3 separate regions of the Homo sapiens genome follow, and all the other regions are linked to region 2. The links come from fine-mapping of genetic effects on gene expression. A gene starts in region 2. Each other region holds a variant in brackets. All regions are shown on one strand. Distances are between the middles of the regions.

Region 1 (7,809 bases), 140 kb before region 2:
ATCTATCATAATTGAATATTATTCAGCCATAAAAAGAAATGAGGCATTGACACATGCCACAAATTGGATGAACCTGGAAGACATTGTGCTAAGAAGCCAGATGCCGCCAGGCATGGAGGTTCCCACCTATAATCCCAGCACTTTGGGAGGCCAAGGCGGGATCACTTGAGCCCAAGAGTTCAAGACCAGCCTGGACAACATGGCAAAACCTCATCTCTACAAATCATACCAAAAAAATGATCTGGGTGTGGTGGCACACACCTGTAGTCCCAGCAACCCAGGAGGCTGAGGTGGGAGAATGATCTGAGCCAGGGAAGTCGAGGCTGCAGTGAGCTATGATCGTCCCACTGCACTCCAGTCTGAGTGACAGAGTAATACCCTGTCTCAAAAAAAAGAAGCCGGACACAAATGGTCTCATATTGTATGATTCCATTTATCTGAAATATCCAGAATAGGAAAATCTGTAGAGACAGAAAGTATTAATGGATTAATGATTGTCAGGGGGTAGGGGGTGATAGCTAACATTATAGGATTTCTTTTGGGGGTGATGACAATGTTTTGGTATTTGACAGTAGTGATGGTTACACAACTCTTGACTATACTAAAAACCATTAAGGCCGGGCATGGTGGCTCACGCCTGTAATCCCAAGACTTTGGGAGGCCAAGGCCGGTAGATCACCTGAGGTCAGGAGTTCGAGACCAGCCTGACCAACATGGTGAAACCCCATCTCTACTAAAAATACAAAAAATTAGCCGGGCGTGGTGGCACGAACCTGTAATCCCAGCTACTCGGGAGACTGAGGCAGGAGAATCACTTGAACCTTGGGGGCAGAGGCTGCAGTGAACCGAGATCACACCACTGCACTCCAGCATGGGTGACAGAGTGAGACTCCGTCTCAAAAAAAAAAAAAAAAAAACCATTGAATTGTACTTCAAATGGGTGAATTGTATGGTATGTAAATTGTATCTCAATAACGCAATTACAAAAAAATATATACACTGTCCACCCAGGACTTGGTATATGCTGTTCCCACTGGCTGGAACACCCTTCCCCCACCTTTCTTCCTCTCACCTAGTGTTGGGCATCCCCAAGGGCTGAGAGGTACAGCCTAGGGTGGAGCAGGAGGGACCTGCAGAGATGTGTCCTACACTGCACCCATGATGGGCTGTGTGACCCTCAGCAGGTGACTTCGTGTCCCTGAGCGTTGGTTGAGTCTGAGCCTGGGGGGGCCGGTGTGATATGCCAGAGCTGATAAGAGGTGCTTAGTTCAGGCTCTGGCCTGACCTGGATGCCCAGTGAGTTGTGGTCATTGGGCCCCTCACATGGCATGACACTGAAGTCACAGGGAAGCTGAGCAAAGCAGAACACAGCCAGCCTTGCTTTGGCAGATGCCTGGAACGGGAGTGGGATGTCACTGGGAGCGTGCAGGGCAGGCAGGCCCCAGCCAGGCCGGGGAAGGGATTTGCTGTTCCCATCTCCCTGCAGTGAGGGCAGGCGCTCCCTGACCCCCATCCACTATCTCCCTGATGCAAGGAGGCCTTGGCCTGTGGCCCAGCCAATGGACCCACCCACTGCGCTCTCCCTGGGAGAGATGCCAGAGGGCTGGAGGGAGGGCAGGGTCCCATCAGAACCATGTGCCAGGGGCTGGACTTGCAGAGCCTCGGCAGAACTCCAGCCTCAGCCCCACGGCAGCCAGTGGCCTTTTAGGACATGAATCCAGTCACGTCTCCCCCTTGCTTAAAACCCTCTGCTCACCTTTTACCATGGCCTTCAGGACCCTGTGTGTCCTGGCCCTGCCCAGCAATCTGACCCCGTCTCCTCTCACTCTTTGCCTTGCTCACACCAAGCCAGCCTCCAGGCCTTCACCCTGGGCATTTCCTCCAGCCTTCCTGCCGCTCCTCATTCCTCAGGCCCCAGCTCAGAGGTCACCTCTCAGAGAAACATCTCCCACCTGCTTTGGAGCCTGCTTTGCTCTTTTTTCTTTTTCTTTTTAGAGATGGGATCTTGCTCTGCTGCACAAGCTGGAGTGCAGTGGCGAGGTGATAGCTCACTGCAGCCTTGACCTCCTGGGCTCAAGCAATCCTCTCTCCTCAACCTCCTGAGTGGCTGAGACTACAGGCTTGTGCCACCACTCCTGGCTATTTTTTATTTATTTATTTTGTTTGTAGAGGTAAGGTCTCACCATGTTGCCCAGGCTGGTCTCAAACTCCTAGCCTCAAATCGATCCTCCCACCTCAGCCTTCCAAAGTGCTGGGATTACCACTACACTCTTCTCTGCCTCAATTCTGTCTTCATGTACAGATAGCACCCAACCACGATTGTCCAATAAGTGCACAAGGCAGGCAGCACAGGTCCCGGCCCCAGGCCTGCCCCTGGTTCACTGAGAGACCCTGAACAGATCGCACCTCCTCTCCACATGACAGACCAGACCTTTGTGAAGTGTGAAGAAGCGGAGGAATCTCCTGTTTGACTCAAATTGTAGGTGGCCCCCAACACCTAAAGCAGCTAGAGCTGCCAAATGTCAACCCTGATTGTTCTGCTGGTGGAAAGGTGAAAGGTGGGGCAGGGGCAGCGTTCTGCTCCATCATATTTTTATCACTCTTCCCGTTTTCCCCAGTGACTAATTCTTTGTTCATCAGAGTGAAAAGATTGTTTGAAAAAAAAAATGCTAAATCTCAACTGAGAATGTAAGGTGAGATCGTTTCTCAGGGTTCCTCCAGGTCTGGAAAATGCAAAGGGGAACTTCAGCAGAAGAGGGCAGGAGGGGCTCTTGTTTTTTTGCAAACCAAGAAGGAAACACGAGTGGGGGAATTTGAGAGAGTGCAGTGGGCTGGTGGGGAGACACCAGCAGTTGTTCCCATACCGTTGCTCATTTATTTATTTATTTTTAATTTAATTTTTTTTTTTTTTGAGATGGAGTCTCATTCTGTCGCCCAGGCTGGAGGGCAGTGACACCATCTTGGCTCACTGCAACCTTCGGCTCCTGGGTTCAAGCAATTATTCTGCCTCAGCCTCCCGAGTAGCTGGGATTACAGGCACGTGCCACCATGCTCAGCTAATTTTTGTATTTTTAGTAGAGACGGGGTTTCACCATGTTGGCCAGGGTGGTCTCGAGCTCCTGACCTCAAGTGATCCACCTGCCTCGGCCTCCCAAAGTGCTGGGATTACAGGCGTGAGCCACCACGCCCAGCAGGCACTATTTCTCATTTCTCCAGATCCCTCCTCATCTTGGCCACTGGCTTCTGATTTCATTCATTCATTCACTCACTTAACTCATGTTCCTTGAGCTCCTACTTTTGGAGCTTTGCAGGGTTCTGGGGATCCAGCCAAGCACACAGCAGACACGTCCTGTCCCTTGTGGAGCTGAGGGTCTGTAGTCAGTGCCCCCAGGGGTCAAGGTCTCTCTGAGTGTGATGTACTACTGGCCCCACATGGACCGTGACAGTCACTCTCCTCGGTTCCCACTCTGCACCACTATTCACGCAGCCTCCTATGATGGTCATCGTCCCATAAAATCAGGCCCATTAGAATCCTCAAATCTATCCAGGAGCTCCTGTCTGCCCAGGGCCCCATCTTGGATGACACCATTACATCTTGAGGGTGGTTACTGATCTTCCGTCTTTCTTTTGTTAAAAATTAACTTCAGGGTTTTTTTTCTAATTTTATCAAGACAGTAAATGCATATTGTAGACAATCTGGCAATGTAGGTATTTGCCTATATTACTAGCTGTGGAACATCAGGCAAGGTGCTTCTCAAACCCTTAATGTCGTCATCTGTGAAATGGGGACAGTCCTAGTACTCACATCACAGATTCATTGTAAGGAGTAAAAGAGACTCCAAATGTATGCATCTGGCACAGAAGAAGCTTAAAATAAATGCACTAAGATGAAGACCAAAAAGAGACTTGTAGCCCAACATCAGGGACAAACCCAGACAACATCTTATAATAGATTACTCTCTTCCAGATATTTTTTTTCTGCACAGATTTAAAGAAAGAAAGAGACAGATGTAAAACAACAATTTTTCAGGTATATGGAGATCACAATGTAATTCTATTTTGTAATCTGGTTTTATTCTCATTTAACAGCCTGAACATTTGACCCACAAAATGATAATATTACCTTGAACCTATAAAGACCTTTCCATCTTTTTGTTACTTCAATGGAAATGCAAAGTTTTAGCAAACTGCCCCTCTGCTGGTTATATGTAAGAAAGTGTATTTCCCTATGTCTATAAGTCCTCTTCTAAGACCTAATTTTATGGCTGAACTGAATTTCAGCCTGTAGCTAGACCTTAATTGATTCAAGCAATGTAAGTAAAAATAAGTGGTAATAAGCAAAAACAAAACAGCAAAATAAGTAACAATGGTTATTACTAGTGTTGTAACAGCATTGGTCAGGTTGTTTGTTTCTACTGATCTGCTATAATCAATGCTGTCATGACATCCTCGTTGATAAAATCTTTGTCCATAAGAAACAAATTCTTTAGGATTTCTAAAGGAATCCATCCCCAAAACAGAGACTATGAATAAGCTTTCCAAATGTTGTTGCCCTTTGTGATATGCCCACAGAGAAGGGACCAAGACATGTTGGGCATTTTTTAAGTGTTAAGTGTTATGCTAGGCATTTGGCCCAGGCATTGAATCTCCAAGCAGTGGCTCACACCTGGAATCTCAGCACTTTGGGAGGCCAAGGCGGGAGGATTGCTTGAGGCCAGGAGTTCGAGATTAGCCTGGACCACATAGGTAGACCCCATCTCTACAAAAAATTAAAGAAAAAGTAGCCAGGCTTGGTGGCACACATCTGTAATACCAGCTACTCAGGAAGCTGAGGTGGGAGGATCACTTGAGCCCGAGAGTTTGGGGCTGCAGTGAGCTATGATTGCACCACTGAGCTCCAGCCTGAGTGACAAAATGAAATCCTGTCTCTTAAAAAAAAAAAAAAAAAGAATCTCCATAATAACCCTTTCATTTTTTGTTGTTGTTGTTGTTGCTTCAATGGATATGCAAAATTTTAGCAAACTGTTCTGCTACTTATGTGTGAGAAAGCCTATTTCCCCACACCATCACCAATACTGGGCATTATGATTTGTATCAGTCAGCTATTGCTGTGTAACAAACCATTACCAAACTCAATGGCTTAAAATAGTAAGCATTTATTATTGCTCATGCATCCACAGGTCAGTCAGCTGGTTCTTCTGATCTCAATCAGCCTACTTGTGCATCACTGGCTGATTTTGCTGATTATTACCGGGCTCTCTCAAATGTCCAGAGCTTGGCTCTACTCCACATGGTCTCTCCTCCTCCCCCAAGCTAGCCCAGGCTTGTTCCATGGCAGCAGCAGAATTTCAGGTTAGCAAATCGAAGCTGCAAGTCCCTTATGGCCGAGGTTCAGAACAGGTACAGAATCACATCATCACATCCACCACATTCTATTGGCCAAAACATGTCACATGACTGAGGCTTGATTCAAGGAGTGGGAAACAGACTCTATCTCTTGATGGGAGGAACTGCAAAGCCACATTGCAAAGGATACAGATACAGAGAAGGGAGGCAAATTAAGAACATTTTTGCAAACAATCACGTAATTTTTTAATTTTTAATTTTTTAATTCTATTTTTAAAGTTTTTACCAATTTTCTAACTTCAGAAAATGTTTTAATGTATATTATTGGATTATACCCTGCTTTCCTTCCCTCTGTTTATTGGCCACTCATCAATTGACTCTTTGCACCCGAACACTAATCTTTATATACACCCTGGCCCACACTCCGCCTGGAATTCCAGTCCATGCTCCTTCTGGAAGCCAGCCGTCACCCCCACGCTTCAGCTCCTCCTTCGCATAATGAATAGCCCAGGAGCCTGCAGGAGAGAGAGCCATGGCC[G/A]ACCACCACCAGCACTTCCCCCGGGCAAGCCCCATGATGACACCATCCATCACTGCCACCCTCGGTGGCTGTGCGCCCCAGGCCCGGCCAAGGAGGAGAGAAAACACTGCCCACAGCTCAGTGGAGCCCTTAATGATTACGTCAAGTGGCAAGCCATTTATTAGTCTCCTTAGCGGCCAAAAAAAATAAGGCCTGAGAAGCCAGAAAGCACATCAGGGGACTGTGGTTTTATTTTTTATAACCGCTTCAAGCCTCAGACACCAAGGGGAATATGGGTCAGGAAGGGAGGCAAGGCTTGGGGGCTGGGGAAACAGGAGTTCTGAACCAGTCTCTGCAGAGGGACTGTGGGCACAGAGAGTTTGCACGGCCCATCCAAGGTCACACAGCTCCCAGGCCGGCGTCCTCCCTCAGGGTCATGGTGTGCCTTCCACTGCACCTGTGTTAACAGCTCCTGCATTTTACCATCAATTGCTTCGAACCCTTCTCTGGAGATTGGTGAATAACAATTAGACATGAGCAAGCATTGGAAGGGGGTGCAGAATATAGGGGGTTCTGGAATTGGAGTGAGAATACCAGGATATTTCACTTCTCTGAGCTTCAGCTTTCTCCTCTGCAGAATGGGCATGAATCAGGGCCAACTTTACGGCCATGAGATCTCTGCAGTTGCACAGAGCCCGGCGCTCAGAAAGGCTCCAAGCTGGGTTTATGTTTTGCTGTTACCGTCTTGAAATTCTTTGTGTGTGTGTGTGTGTGTGTGTGTGTGTGTGTGTGTGTGTGTGTGGCAGAGTCTTCCTCTGTTGCCCAAGCTAGAGTACAGTGGCGTGATCTCGGCTCACTGCAACTTCTGCCTCGCAGGTTCAAGTGATTCTCCTGCCTCAGCCTCCCAAGTAGCTGGGATTACAGGCATGCGCCACCACACCCAGCTAATTTTTGTATTTTTAGTAGAGACAAGGTTTCGCCATGTTGGCCAGGCTGGTCTTGAACTCCTGACCTCATGTGATCTGCCCACCTCAGCCTCCCAAAGTGCTGGGTTTACAGATGTGAGCCATCATGCCCGGCCACCATCTTGAAATTCTTAATTTCTGCACCTATCTATGTTTTGTAAGTGAAGCCCAGTGGGGCAGTGAAGCATGCAGGTGAGCAGAAGAGACTCACGGAAGAAGGGCAAACATTTCCTATTTTAGTACCTTTACTGTACATTTTTCCTGCCTTTTAAACAAGGAGGACTGCAGTTTTGTTTCACACGGCAGCCTGCAAATTTTGTTGCCACCCTAAGCATGATGATACCTCCTGGGCCAGGCTGGGCACCTCAGAGACTCTCAGAGAGTGGCTGGCCCCACCAGTCAGGGGCTCCATCTCTCCCTTTGTAGGTTCCTCTCCTCCACTGGAACCCGGGACGGTTCTCCTGGATGACACCCCTCCTCTTCCTGCCACATTTAGACAGGTTCCAAGCCCCTCCTTTCCACCTCCTTCTCGTCCCTGCCTCCATTTCTGCTCTAGTTTCATCGCCCCAGTATTGCTCACCTAGAATTCCTGCCTCCTGCCAGAACCTCCCAGCCTTTACCCTGCCCTGCCCCCACCCACTCTCTTTACAAGGCTAAGCCCTGGTTCCCCAAGCTTCCACATGGGGCCACAACACCCCACTCTGGGCTCTAGACATTCCCTACCAACCACTGGCTGGTGGTTCCCATGTTCCACATGTCCTTCATTCCCCATGCCTTCCTAACAGCTCCTGTTTATTGAGCACCTACTGTGTGCCAGGACCCATGCTAAGCATCTTGCATGAATGAACTCATTTCATCCTCATAAGACCCCTATGACATAAACACTGTGAATATCTTCAACTTACAGGTGAGGAAACAGAGGCACAGAGTAGTTGATTCACTTGCTCTAAGTCACACAGCAAGTGCCAGAGAGGGCTTGGA
Region 2 (5,000 bases):
CCCACCATGCCCGCAGCTCTGGGCATGGCCGAGGCGCCCGGGAAAGCGCCCCCAGGAACCTGGCGACCCGCTGCATAATGAGGCAGCTGCCCTTCGGAGTCAGAGGGCGAAAACATGTCAAAATGTCCCGAGGGCGCCTCGCCCGGGTAATTGTATTCCAGCGAGTCGACGGCTCCTTGGTTCGTCACCCTCCGTGGCTCCAGACTGTGGGAATCGGAGCCGCTGGAGGACGGCAGGCCGTGGAAGGAGGCGGCTCGGTTAGGGCTCTGGTCCAGCGGCAGGCATGGGGCCGGCACGGCGTGGCTGGAGGCACCTGAACTGTGGAAGTCCGGGAGGTTCCCCGGTCGCTGCGGGCCGAAGCTCTCAGGCCCCTGGCTCTCCGCCATGTGCTCATAGCCCTCGGCGAAGGGCGGCTGGCTGCCCAGGCCTCCGGCTGCGCCGCCGTAGCCGAGCAGGCGACCCCCGTGCAGGCACGAGGCCCCGGGGTCCGGGCCACCGAAGTTGCCCCCAAAGTGGGGGTGATGCTGGTGGGGATGATGACTTCCCGGGTGGCCGTGGTGAGGCTGCTGGCCGCCAAAGAAGCCGTGCACAGGCTGCGCTTGCAGCCCCCCTGCGTGCAACTCCGAGTGGCCGCGCGCGTGGAAGCCGTAGGGCTCCATGTTCATGCCCAAGATCGGGGGTTCGCCCAGCGCGCTCATAGCAGGATCCACAGGGCCAGGGGGCCCCCCAGTGTGGAAAGCCGGGGCCTTAAAGTGGGTGTTCATGCTCAGTCCGGTCTCGTTAAAGTTCCTCTCGCCCTGGCCAGCGTTCCTGCTGTTGACCTGGGGCTCGAATTGGTCCAGCCCAAACATACTTGGCGGGGGGCAGAGGGGGATCAATAGGGCATGACAGCCGGCTCTCCGCGGCGCGCCTCCGGCCAGCTACTCGTTCCAGCCCAGGATTGGGCGCTCCGGGACGCTCAGCACCGCGGGGGCTCAGCGCGCACCTCCACCCCGCCTGATGTGAGGGACGGGGGGCGGGGTATTAGCTCCTCTCCTGAAGCTCCGATTCTGCCCGGGGAGGGCCTCTCACATCTTGCGAGGCCGCGGGGCCTCTAGGAGCCGTGTTGGGGGGCCCATGCCCCGGGCGGTTGTCACAGCCGCGGGTGGGTCTGCGGGGAGGGGACGAAGCCGCGGATGAACGGAGACAAAAAGTTAAGTGGGGGGAATGGGGAGGGAAGGGGGTTGGGAGAGCAGAGCGATCACCTTCTCAAGTCCGATTGGGTCTGCTGGGGAGCCCTCAGGACGCCGCCCGCAGCCTCCCGGAGTCCGTGGCAGAGCTGCTAAGGGCAGGGGAGGGAGACCCTTCAAAGCCGCGGCTGGCGCCGGGCACCGACAGAGCGGTCCCTCCCCCCGCCCCCCGGAGTCCCCGCGCCCCGCAGCCCGAGCCTCCACCGAGCACGATCCGCTCGCACAATCCCCGTAGGCTCCGGGCGAGCGGCTGCTGCTTCTTCAGCGGGTCGGAGGACTGGAGGCTCCGCTCGGCATCGCCGGTGCCGGCCCCCGAGCCGAGGACGCAGAGGGGCTGCGAGGCGGCAGGCGCCGGGGGCTGGAGCCGAGGGTCGGGGAAAGGCGCGGCTCCTCTGCTCGGCAGCGGGTGCGCTGCGTTCGGCGCGCAGCTTCGCGGCCACGTCCGCCGCCTGCCGCTTCTGTTCTCCGCCGTTGGGTGTCTGAGTTCGCCGGAGTCTCCGCGCACCGTTGCAGGCGCGGGAGGGCAGCGAGACGAGGGGTTGGGTCGCTCCAAGGCTCCGGTTCCCTGCCTCCGCGCTGAGGTGCTTCGCGAGTCCCTCTCGGACCTGAGGGAGGGGGGCGTACGCGGGTCGGGGGGCCACGCCGGGCGAGCAGGCTAAGGCGTTCCCGCTGCGCTCTCAGAGCCCGGAATGGGGGGAGGGGGGCGCGGGGGCAGCTCTGGGGGGTCTGCGCACCCCTCTCCCGACTAGCGGGGGGGCTCTGCGTGGGGCGTTCCGAGGGTCTCGGCTCCCCTCTCTGTGTCTGCCTCTCGCCCAGCGCCGGGAGAAGCAGCAACAAGTTTTGCATTTCAGCAATCAATTTCAGCCATTACATTTGCACCAATCAGCGCCGCCCAAGTTCCGGGCTCGGGGCGGGGCTCGCTCTTAAGGTGGTCCGGGGTCCTGGCTGCCGAAGCCCCCGCCACGAACCCGCACTACCCCAGCTCTGGGGTCCCCTGCGCCCGCCTCTCCTCGGGGTCCGGCGTCAGTGCGCTGGGGGCGCGCCCCGGCCTCCGGGCGCATCGAGCTGGAGAGGGTGCAGGCGGAGGAGAATGGCGGGAGCTTGGCTTTGTTCACCCCCTTCCCATTCACACTGTTCCCAACTCCCCACCCCCAACTGGAGCGAGACCCACCGGGTGGGCAGGGGGCGGGGAGGTGGGCGGTGAGCGGTACGGGGCGCTCAGACAATGAGGTCGCCAGGCAAAGACCCTAGACTCGCCACGGAAAGTCGCTAAGTGTCTACTGCACTTCGGCTCCGGGGTGAACACTCCGTTCTCCGCTAGCGGCGCCCAAGTTAGCCGGCCCTGGGATTTTCTTGGAGGGTAAAGCAGACGGGGAACCTCGAAGTTAGGGTTCTCCTCGAGAGACCTGGGCGCTTGCTCACTCCTCCGTCACTAGGGCGTTCACAATTGTTCCCCTTCCCCACTGCCTGGGGTTCCCGGTTCTCACCGGCCGGCGTGGGCTCCAAGGAGTCACAGTCACTCAGCCACTTTATGGGGGAGCACATCGGTTGAGCCCAGTAACCGGAGCGACTTGCGAGGCGGCTGGGAACCCCGAGAAGACACGCACGAAGAGGGCGCACCCGCCGGGCCGCACACCTTGCCCTGGGCCACCCGGTCCAAGACCCAGACCCTCTGCGGGTGCGAAGTTGGCCTCCTTAAGAGATCAATTAAACTGAAGAGGCCGAGGAATGGAATTGGGCTGTGATACTAAAATCAATAGGAGTAATTTAATATCTGCCCTGCTCTTTATGAAATATTTATCCCAATAATCTTAGTTAAAATGTTTAGATCGTCCTGATCCCCACAGAGGCTGAAATCTATCTTGCAATTAGAAGTTGGAAGTTAGAGGTGATGGAGGATAGAGGTGTTTATTCTGTGCGCCTGTGTGCGTGTGCTCGCGCCTGCGTGCGTGTGTTTGTGCATGCGTGTGTGTGTGTGTGTGTGTTCCTCCCTAAAGTGTGTGTAGGGAAGGAGGGGGGAGAAGGCCTTTAATTTTCCTTGCCATAAAATAGCACGAGGCGATTTTGCTAGCAGATTCGCATTCTTAGGAGAAGGGCGAAAAAAGAACTTTCTTTGAAGTGCCCCTGATATCGCTATTAAATCTAAATAAAATTAAGCGTGGTGTATGAAAATGCCTTTCCCCCCCCACAAAAGAAAGTGTTTATCGCCCGAGTCTGTCTAGCGTTTGCTAAATTACGCATGAAATCTGAAATGAAATAAACGTTATAATAAAACCAACCCCTGAGCCCTTTTTATTTAAAAACCTTAGATTAAGCACTCCACCGTCGCGGGCAGGAGTTAAAAAGTTACCATGTCGTACGCGCAGATTCATTGCTCCCCTGAGTTGCGGCTAGGAAGGCAGTGCTAAGTATGCCAGAACCGACATGCCGGGGGTGGGGGGAAATGGGCTCAACTTTGGGGTAGCGGCAGAATTCCTAAGAAATTGCCCCCCGCCCAAAAAAAATTTTAATTAAAAATAAACAAACAAGAAAAAACAACAACTTTAAAACTCAGCCAGAGCAAGCTCAGATCCAAGACCTTTCCCGGGGCCTTCCTGTTGTGGAAGTTTACAGACATATATATTTTTTCTTTTTTGAAATTAAAAATGAAAATTACCCCCATCAAAAATGGGGTCCATAAATAAGCATAGGGAATAAGTATTTGTACAGGGCGGTGGAGTTTTTAAAGGATTTTTCTGCAGGATCAGGTTGTTGGTCTGTGATTAAATATTGATTTTGTGTAATTAGTTTTCATGTGAACTATCCTCTTGCTGATAGCTTAGAGGTTTCAGAACTAGAAAAGAAATGGAATTGGACATGGAAATTATTACTTAGCAAAGTGACAGGGAAGTGAGAGCCAGAGAAAAGACTGAGGCTTTGCTGATTTAGGCACAAAGAAATAAAGGCTTGGGTAGGCCCTCCAGTGACACCCCCCCCCCGCCCGCCCCGGGGCCTAGGACCCTGGGGCTCTGGGGCTCCCGAGACAGAGCAGGGGGGATCTTGAACCTCCTGGACAAAAAGCGGGAGGCAATAGGAAAACCTGGTTGTGAGGAAGAGGCCCCCACATGGGCAAAGGCCTGGGCATAGTCCAAGATACTGGGTCACACACTCAGTCTGCTCTCGACTATGGGTGTCTCCTGAGGCACCTATGAGCCGCCTGTGTTTCTGTGTCTGGAGGAAATAGGGAAAAGTGGGGACCTGTCTGGAGCCTGGGGGTGGGCCAGGAGAGTGGGAAGAATGGCTCACAGGCCTGTCGTCTGGGGAGACCCGGATGGGGGCGTCTGCAGAGCTGAGGCATGACTTCACACAGGGCTGGGTGGGGGTCTCCAGCACACCTGGGCAGGTTTCCTGTGGAATAATTCCGTGTGCTCCAGGGAGGGGGGGTGTGGGAGTATTTTTCTGGGGCTGTTTCCAAGAGTTAGCTCCACAAGGTGTGTGAGTGGCTGAAAGAAGGGAGTGTTTGGACCTGGTGAAGTTTCTGTTCAGGATGTGTGTCTCGGTCACCTTTCTTTAACACTGCAAATGTTGTGCGGGTGTGTGGCACACGTCTGCATTTTGTGCCTTTGCTTGTATGCGGGTGGCGGGGCATCTGCGTGTGTTTCTGTCCATGCCTGCGTCGGCGTTCGTGCATGGATCTTTGGGGGTCTTGGTGCATGTTCTCTGTCTGTCCCCCAACCCCGCATTTCTGTGTGTGTGAGCCACTGCGTTTGTACCTGTGTGTGTGCAGCTGCC
Region 3 (8,084 bases), 76 kb before region 2:
ATGTGACTATATCTGGAGACAAGGTCTTTAAGAGGTGATTAAGGGTAAACAGAGTCATAAGGGAGGGGCCCTAATCCAATCAGACTGTGGCCTTATAAGAAAATTAACAGAGAGATCTCTCCCTCTCTCTACCACATGAGGACACAGTAAGAAGGTGGCTGTCTGCAAACTAGGAAGAGATCCCTCACCAGCATCCAACCATGCTTGGCACGCTGATCTCAGACTTCCAGGCTCCAAAACTATGAGAAAATAAATTTCTGTTATTTAAGCCACCCAGTCTATGGTACTTTGTTCTGGCAGCCTGGGCTAATTAAGACATCCAGAGTCAAGACATGGGGAATAGATTCCATCTTTTGATGGAAGGAGCTGCAAAGCCACATCATAAAGGGGCATAGATAAGAGAAGGAGTGGGTAAAGAGAAATTGAGGACTTTTCCAATCAGTTTAACACCACAGAGCCTACAAAGTAGAATTTCTGTGCACCAGCTTTGAAATAACACAGTCATTGTGGCTCTGCCATTTTCTAGCCACTTGGTATTTGGTAAGTCACTCAACCTCCCTAAGCCTCTACGTATTCATCTGCCAAATGGGAATAAAAATAGTGTCTACCTCATAGGACCATCATGAGAACTAAAAGAGACAACATGTTTGAAGTGATTGCCACCCTGTAGGTGCTCAATAAATCTTTGCTCTTCATCATCAATACCACCTGCACAGACTAGTAACATGGAGGTTGAAAACTGGACCTGAGTTTAAATTCTAGCTCTGTCATTTGTCAGCTGTGTGACCTGGAGTAAGCCCCTTGACCCTCTGCACCTCTATTCCCGTATCTGCAAAATGGAGAAAATAATAAACACTACCTCCAGGGGCACTGTAGGATTCAGTATAATAATTTCTAAGAGAAGCTCAGCTCAGTAGCTGGCACAGCATTGAGTTCTTGGGAAATTGACATGATTATGATTATTGACATCTGTAAATAGGAATACCCATCTCAAGAGTGGCTCTGAGGAACAACAAGGGTAATGAACCACACAGCACCTTGGAAGCCAGGAAAGGCTTGCATTTATCAATATGGTTTTAGTTGTATGAGACAGAAACACAAATCCAGTTAGTTTAAGCAAAACAGGAGTTGTTCTTAGCTCTTGTTACCAAAAATTCTGTGAGAAGGACAGGTGTGAGACAGGCTCCCAGGATGCCAACCTCATCTAGACATTGCCTTTGACTTCATCTGCCTCTCTTTTTACTGGTCACTTTCTTTTTTCCTTATCTTCACAGAGTGGGGGACACAGCCACAGACAGCTCAGGACTCATCTTCATGGAGGAAAAGGGGCTGCCTTCATCCAGCCCAAGGGCAAAAATCCCAGAGAAGAGCTCCGATTGGCCCACTAAGAGTCACATGACCATCTTTAGCCCAGTCACAGCAGTCAGAGAGTGGGATAGTATGATTGGCAGCCCCCAGCAGAAGCACTTATTGAGAAGAGGAAGAACAGATGCCTGGAAGGAAAGGACGGTTGTGGGATTGGTGGGGGTATATTCTGTGTAGATGAAACAAAAAGGCCTGCTTTTGATGCAGAACAGGTGAGCCCCAAAATTTGGGCTTAGCCTGGGAGGGTTCTTCCCTTTGCCTAGGAAAGAATTCAAGCACAAGCCAGTGGTGGTAAACAGCAGCTTTAATTGAAGTGTCAGTGTGCAGCAGCAGAGGTACTGCTCTTTGCAAAGCAGGGCTACCCCATAGGCAGTGTGCCCAGAGTAGCAGCTCAGAGACAGTCCTACAGTCATATTTATACCCACTTCTCATTACATGCAAATTAAGGAGCAGTTTATGCAGAAATTTCTAGGAAAAGGATGGTAACTTCTGAGTCGTTGGGTTGTTGTCATGGAAAGGGGCATAACTTCTAGGTGTTGCCATGGCAATGGTAAACTGAGATGGCACACTGGTGGGTGAGGGGAGTCTTGTGGAAAGCTGCTTCCATCCTGGCCCTGTTTTAGCTAGTCTTCAATTTGGTCCAGTGTCTGAGCCCCACCTCTGGAGTTGAGTTCTGCCTCCTACTTCAGTTTGGCTCTGTTCCATTCCCTCCAAATCTGCTTTCCCCATTTGACAGTAGAAACCCTTAAGGCTCAGCCAGGTCAAGAGACTCAGGTCACACGAAGTAGGAAAATGTAAAAATAACTTCTAAACTTCACTCTTGACACTATGTGATGCTGTGCCATTTGGAAGGGTCCCTTTTGCCTACGCAGCCCTGCTCTGCACGTCACCCAGCCTGGCCCAATTTCCCTGCATCTTGGTCTCTGTCCATGTGTCCTTGGCACACATATGGAATGAGCTATGGCATTCAGTTGCTCCCTCCCGGACCAGTTGCCACAGCCCGGTACTGCAGGCCCATTCAGCTGAGTCTTGGAGTTGTCAAACATCTCAGAAGCAGTCACCTACATATTTCAGGTCCAGCCAATGCAGCCTGCCTTTGTCCAGCACCATTTGCTGCATATTTCAAGAGAAATTAGATCCACATGACCAAATTCCTCCACACTCATCTCACTCAGGCCAGGGTTTGGCATGAAAGGGCTGTGGGCTGTGGAAAGGTTTCCCTCCCTCCTGCTTGGGACCAGAGCACAGCTACTGATGCGAAGGGGATGACAAGCCCCCAGCCGAAAGTGCAACCAGAGCCTTCAAAGGCTTAGCCCATAGGGTCAGAGCAGGACAAGGGCCTAGGAAGAGAGAAACCTGACATCTCAGCACCCTGGGCACAGGGGAAGGCTAGGGTACAGCCCTTCCCAGCTGCTGGCTGGAAACAGGATGCATGGAGTCCAGAGCTCAGTGCTCAGAAGTCAGGCCAGGCCAACCTGGCACCCCAGCCCCACTCTGCCACTCTGTAGCCAGGTGGCCATAGGCAAGCCTCAGTTTCCTCATGTGAAAAATGGGGATTAAAGTGGTGTCAATCCCACGGGAAAGTGGTCTCATAATGACATTGAGGTGAAGAATGCAAAAGTAAATGTCAGTTGGTACTATTATTATATTGTTACCACCATCATCATCACCTTCATCAGCACCATCACCATCATCATCATTAAAATCATCACCATCACCACCACCATTATCACCACCATCGTCATCACTATTTTCTTCACCATATGGTTACCATCATCATCACTATTACCATTATGCAAAACTTAGTGGTTAGGCCAGGTCTGATGACTTCATCACCACAACCACTGTCCTCCTGCAGATCACCATCATCTTTAGCCTGGAGTACTGATAGAATCCTGTAACTGCCTAGCTGCCTCTAGTGTCACTCCCTCCAAAACCCTTGCTTCTGCTCAAAGCCATTCCATCATCCATAGAGTAAAGCCCAGGCGCTTTCACGTGGCATCAGGGGACTTTCCCCTTGTGCCCCTTTCTGCCTTATCACTCACACCTACAGTCACATCAAGTGGTTCCCCTTTCTACAAAATGTGCCACGCTTCCCTATGTTTCCAGTACTATACACCAGCTGTTCCCGCCACACAGAATATTCTTCCCAGTTGCCTCTCAAGCTCCCAGTGACCTTTCAGGGTTCAGCTCAAATGGCTCCTCGACAAAACTCCACTCTATCCTAGCTGGACAGCATTGCCCGTAGAAGGCTCTGGACTTCTTTGTCAAAAAGGGAGACAAGCATGAGTTGGAGACAGGTGTAAAAGAGGTATCAGCACCAACAGGAGTCTTTCCCTGATGCCATGAGAGGAATTGGGAGGAAATAGCTGTCTCAATGGGGAATTCAAAATTATTTATCTCACGTCCCACTAAGGGGAATGCACCCAGCCCTTCAGGACGCACTGGCATGCATGATGTACCAGGGAGGGGCTCCACACAGAAGTCTACCTCCCCCACGATCCTCTCTGAGCAGAGCCAGCCCCACATTTGTAGGGGACGTGCCTGTTTTATGGCTGAAGTTATATAACTCATCCTTCTCTGAAGCAGACATTCTTAGTTCAAACCCTGACCCCACCCCTTCCCGTCTATTTGAAAGACTTAGTTTCCTTGGCTATACAATAGTTGGTTGTGCTCAAGGACCTCTGGGAACCCTTCCTGTCCTAAGCAGAGAGACAATAGCCTGTGAATCTGGCAGTCCTGTATTCCATCTGACAGATCCGTCCACCCTTAACGTGAGAATAGGAGTTACCCTGCAAGTGTGCTGGAAGTTCCAGCCCTCTGCTTGCTGTGAGCAGGCTCTGAGCCTCGGTGTCCCTAGCAGGGCAGATAATGGGCTTTCCTCTTGCACAGGACTCTTGTGAAGTCTGAATGGCTCTTTCTGAACATGGAGCCAGGCACAGGGGATGCCCCTGTAGCCCTAGTTGTGCATGACTCACGACTCTTATCCATTCCACAACAAGAGCCCAGCCCCAGTGGCCTCTGGCTGGGAGGGGGTTGGAGAGTGAGTTCAGGGAAGCTAGACGCCAGGAAGGGCCACACCCAGTGCCTATTGCTCTCCCCCAACCCCCCACACTCTTTTAAATCTGCAGCCTGC[G/T]TGACAGTGCATTTGGCTGGATCCTTAAAAAAATAATTTCAGAGAAAATGCAAATGACACAGGAAAACAAGTTGCAGATGGTGCGTGACTCCCACAAGAGCACCGCCCTGGCTCCTCCCGGGTCCTTCAGCAGCGCCCCTGTTGTCCACCCCCCACCAAGCTGACTTATGGTGTTCCTTAGGGTGGCCCAGGGGAGCCAGCCATGCGGGAAGGGCCCGGCCTCTTTCTTGAAAGGAAGAAAGGAGGGAGGGGGCGGAGCTGTCTACCACCTGCTGGCCGACCCTGCTTCAAGCCATCTCAGCTGCACACCTCCTGGGTGTCAGGCCCTGCCCTGGCGACACCACTAGGATTTGATCTGATCCCTCTGCCCCAGGAAGGAGGCAGATACCTTTAAACTTCAGTGCCTTAGGGAACTATGCTAAGGGAGGCTTGCCTGCTTCATTGATCCACCTCCTACCAGTCTTTCTTTTCTCCTTGTGCTCCAGTCACACTGGCCAACTTGTTGTTTCTTCACACACATCAAACTCTCCCTACCTCTAGGCCTTTGCACTTGGCTTCCTCTGCCTGGAAGGAGTTCTCAAATCCTTCCTCTTCCAAAGACCTTCTCTGATCACCCACTACATAGTAGTCCCACCCCATCATTCTTTATTAAAGCACACAGTTCGTGTCCTTCATAACTGTTTTTACAATTAATAACAATGTACTGGTTTGTGTTTCCTTGTCAATTGGTGGCAACAAGTCAGTGTATTCATCAGTGTTTCCCCAGGGTCTACCACGATGCCTAGAATATGAAGGTGCTCAAATATTTGTAGGAGGGAGAAATGAAATGTTCCTTGTTGGGTGCTTGAAAAAACAAAGAGGCATTTGAGCAGGGTTCTGAAGGATGTTTAGGAGTTCATAAGCAGGGGGGAAGGTAATGGAGGCAGATGAATAAAATGAATGAAATGGAGGCAGATGAATGAAAGAGCAGGGAAACTTGAGCATGCGGGCCTAAACATGAGGTTCAGGGCCCACAGGTGAGCTTCAAATGGCGTGGACTTAAGCCCAGCTCCCCCATTCACAATGATCCTGGGGTTGTAACTTCAGCTCCCTGAGCTCTGTTTCCTCATCTCTAAAACAATAGGGTTGGGTAAGGATTTGTAGAAAAGATACACGGGCTTGGCACACTACTGGACATATAGTCAGTGGGATAAACAAGGCAGCTGCTATTTTCATGCAGGGATTCAGCAGAGGGACTTCTAGGCCCCAGGCTAGGAGAGAGAGAGAAGGGAGGGAGGGAGGGTGGGAGAAAGAAGGAGACAGAGAGAGGAAGAGAGGGAAAGAGAGAAAGAGAGAGAGAGGTGGAGAGAAAGAAAGAAAGAAAGAGAAAAAGGGAGGGAGACAGAGAGAGAGAGAGAAAGAAAGAGAGAGAGAGAAAGAAAGAGAGAAAGAAAGAAGAAAAAGAAAAGAAAAAGAGAAAAGAAAAGAAAGAAAAACAGAAAAAGAGAAAGAAAGAAAAAAGAAAAAGAAGAAAGAAAGGAAGTAAGGAAGGAGAAAGAAAGAGAAAGAGAGAAAGAAAGAAAGAAAGAAAGAAAGAAAGAAAGAAAGAAAGAAAGAAAGAAAGAAAGAAAGAAAGAAAAGGAAAGGAAAGGAAAGGAAAGGAAAGGAAAGGAAAGGAAAGGAAAGGAAAGGAAAGGAAAGAAAAGAAACCTGAGACATCTAGGCCATCAGCAGGGCTGTGAGGAATTCCTTCAGCTTCATGCAGAGAGCCAAGTTCCAAGTCGAAATCGTGGCTGGGGGCCTGGGCCAAAGAACTGGGGGGATAGAATTTGGAGTCACATGACCCTTGAGCAATGCTTTGAGAGACTCTGGCTTAAACCTCCATCTTTGCCTTCACCTAGTCCTCAAGGTTCCAGGCTTTGGTAGTTTCTGCTGAAACTCTTTCAGCTGCCCTTTGCCCAGGCTGCAACCTCTTCCAGAAATGCCCTTTCTCCAGCTGTTGAAACTCCCAGCAAATTTGCAGCCATCTCCATGGCACTTCAGTCAGGCGCTAGCACTAATGCCCAACCCTCTGGCCACTTACAGGACAACCATAGTCCTGACGTTTGTCTCAGGGTCTGAAAGTTTCCAATCAGTGCACTTAGGCTAGGAATAGAGAATCCCATCCACCAAACTAGAAGTTCCTCAAGGAGTGGGATCAGGTTCGCCTTGCCCAGCACGCAGGAGGTGGTGGTCAGCTAATGTTTGTTGAATGAATAAATAAGCAAATGCTTGAACTGTAGAAGGCAGGGGAAATGAGCTTAACCCCACCTCTGCCTTCACCAATACCCCTTCCCCATGACGCAAATCTTATTTCCAATCCAATCAGGAGAAAACTGAGGTTCAGGGAGGTCCTAGTTTGGCCATCTCTGATCTCATCTGAGTCTGTCCCTTTCTGAGTCTGTTTCCCCATCTGTATGGGAAGTAGCACCCCTGGTGCAGGGCCAGCTTCATGAGTGTGTGACGGGGGCAGTCATAAGCCGGCTGTGTCTAAGACTAGGTGGGAGTGGTGACGTCCCCAGAAGGCCCCACTCTCCATGCACTTTTCCTTACCCTGAAGGCAGAAAGAGGCAATGATGTTCTAAGACACACAAAGGACCAATGTTTACTTAAAGGACTCATGTTTACTTCTGCAGGAAAAGAATGAAGGGAAGAGGAAGACAGAGCAACCCACAGTTCCTTCTTTCAGCCTTTCCTCACTCTTCAGTAAGCCAAAAGTAGAGAGTGTTAGTACAGTATGCATGTGGCAAGAAGTGAAATAAAAACAGTTGATTTGGTCAGGCTCAGTGGCTCACACCTGTAATCCCAGCACTTTGGGAGGTCAAGGCAGGAGGATCACTTGAGGCCAGGAGTTTGAGACTGGTCTGGGCAACATAGCAAGACACCCACCTGAACAAAAAATTTAAAAATTTAGCCCAGGTAGGGTAGCGTGTGCCCATAGTCGTAGCTACTCAGGAGGCTGAGGCAGGAGGATCTCTTGAGCCCAGGAGTTTAAGGCGGCAGTGAGCTAGGATAGCACCACTATACTCCAGCTGGGGTGACAGACCAAGGCAATGTCTCAAAATAACAATAACAATAATAATAGTAATAATAATAATAATAACAGTTGAGTTAGTTTTGAGCAGCGTTTCTGCCATTCTGGTAATAATGAAATGCCTGTGTGTGTGCAAGCTATAAATATGAATTTTGTCATTTCAGTGATTCCGCTTACAAGTTAAATGCTCTAATATTTGCGCTTAAAACAGGCATTGTATAATATAAAGATGAGTGGTAAAATTCATGCTAATAACTTATAAAAGTTTAATTTTTCTTTACTTAGAAGGATATTAAATAGCAAATAAAAAATGCCATGACAAGGCAAGAGAGAGAGACTACGGAAGAAAGGAAAAAGTCTTTATATTTTAGTACATTTCTTAATGCCATTTTTCTCTGCTTTTTGAACAAGGGGCCTGGAATTTTTTATTTGTTTTTCTTAGAGAAAAGGTCTCACTTTGTCGCCCAGACTGGAGTGATGTGGCACAATCATAGCTCACTGCAGCCTCCACTCCTGGCCTCAAGCCATCCT

Which allele goes with the higher level. Positions count from the first base shown, and alleles are read on the strand shown. Sizes are in standard deviations (SD) of each study's normalised expression.
As copies of A replace G in region 1, the expression in tibial artery of the gene that starts at base 2,064 in region 2 goes down (small effect, 0.15 SD a copy in GTEx).
For the expression in monocytes after LPS of the gene that starts at base 2,064 in region 2, T is the low allele of the variant in region 3 and G is the other (large effect, 2.0 SD a copy in Quach 2016).

What was found. PIP is the estimated chance that this variant, and not a neighbour inherited with it, causes the effect.
Region 1: its variant is fine-mapped to the expression of MN1 in tibial artery (GTEx, PIP 0.92).
Region 3: its variant is fine-mapped to the expression of MN1 in monocytes after LPS (Quach 2016, PIP 0.95). The same link has a PIP of 0.9 or more in monocytes after Pam3CSK4.

What each region holds. Positions count from the first base shown.
Region 1 is chr22:27,661,380-27,669,188 of GRCh38, forward strand. No RefSeq gene overlaps it. Among named protein-coding and RNA genes, the nearest start is that of CPMER, 50 kb to the right of the region's middle. RefSeq lists an enhancer at 6,077-6,576. The variant G/A (reference allele first, on the strand shown) is at 5,885.
Region 2 is chr22:27,799,693-27,804,692 of GRCh38, forward strand. It overlaps MN1 (MN1 proto-oncogene, transcriptional regulator), which reads right to left and starts at 2,064. Exons shown (of 2, transcript NM_002430.3): 1 at 1-2,064. The coding sequence starts at 851. RefSeq lists enhancers at 1-130, 4,473-5,000.
Region 3 is chr22:27,722,487-27,730,570 of GRCh38, forward strand. No RefSeq gene overlaps it. Among named protein-coding and RNA genes, the nearest start is that of CPMER, 12 kb to the left of the region's middle. The variant G/T (reference allele first, on the strand shown) is at 4,502.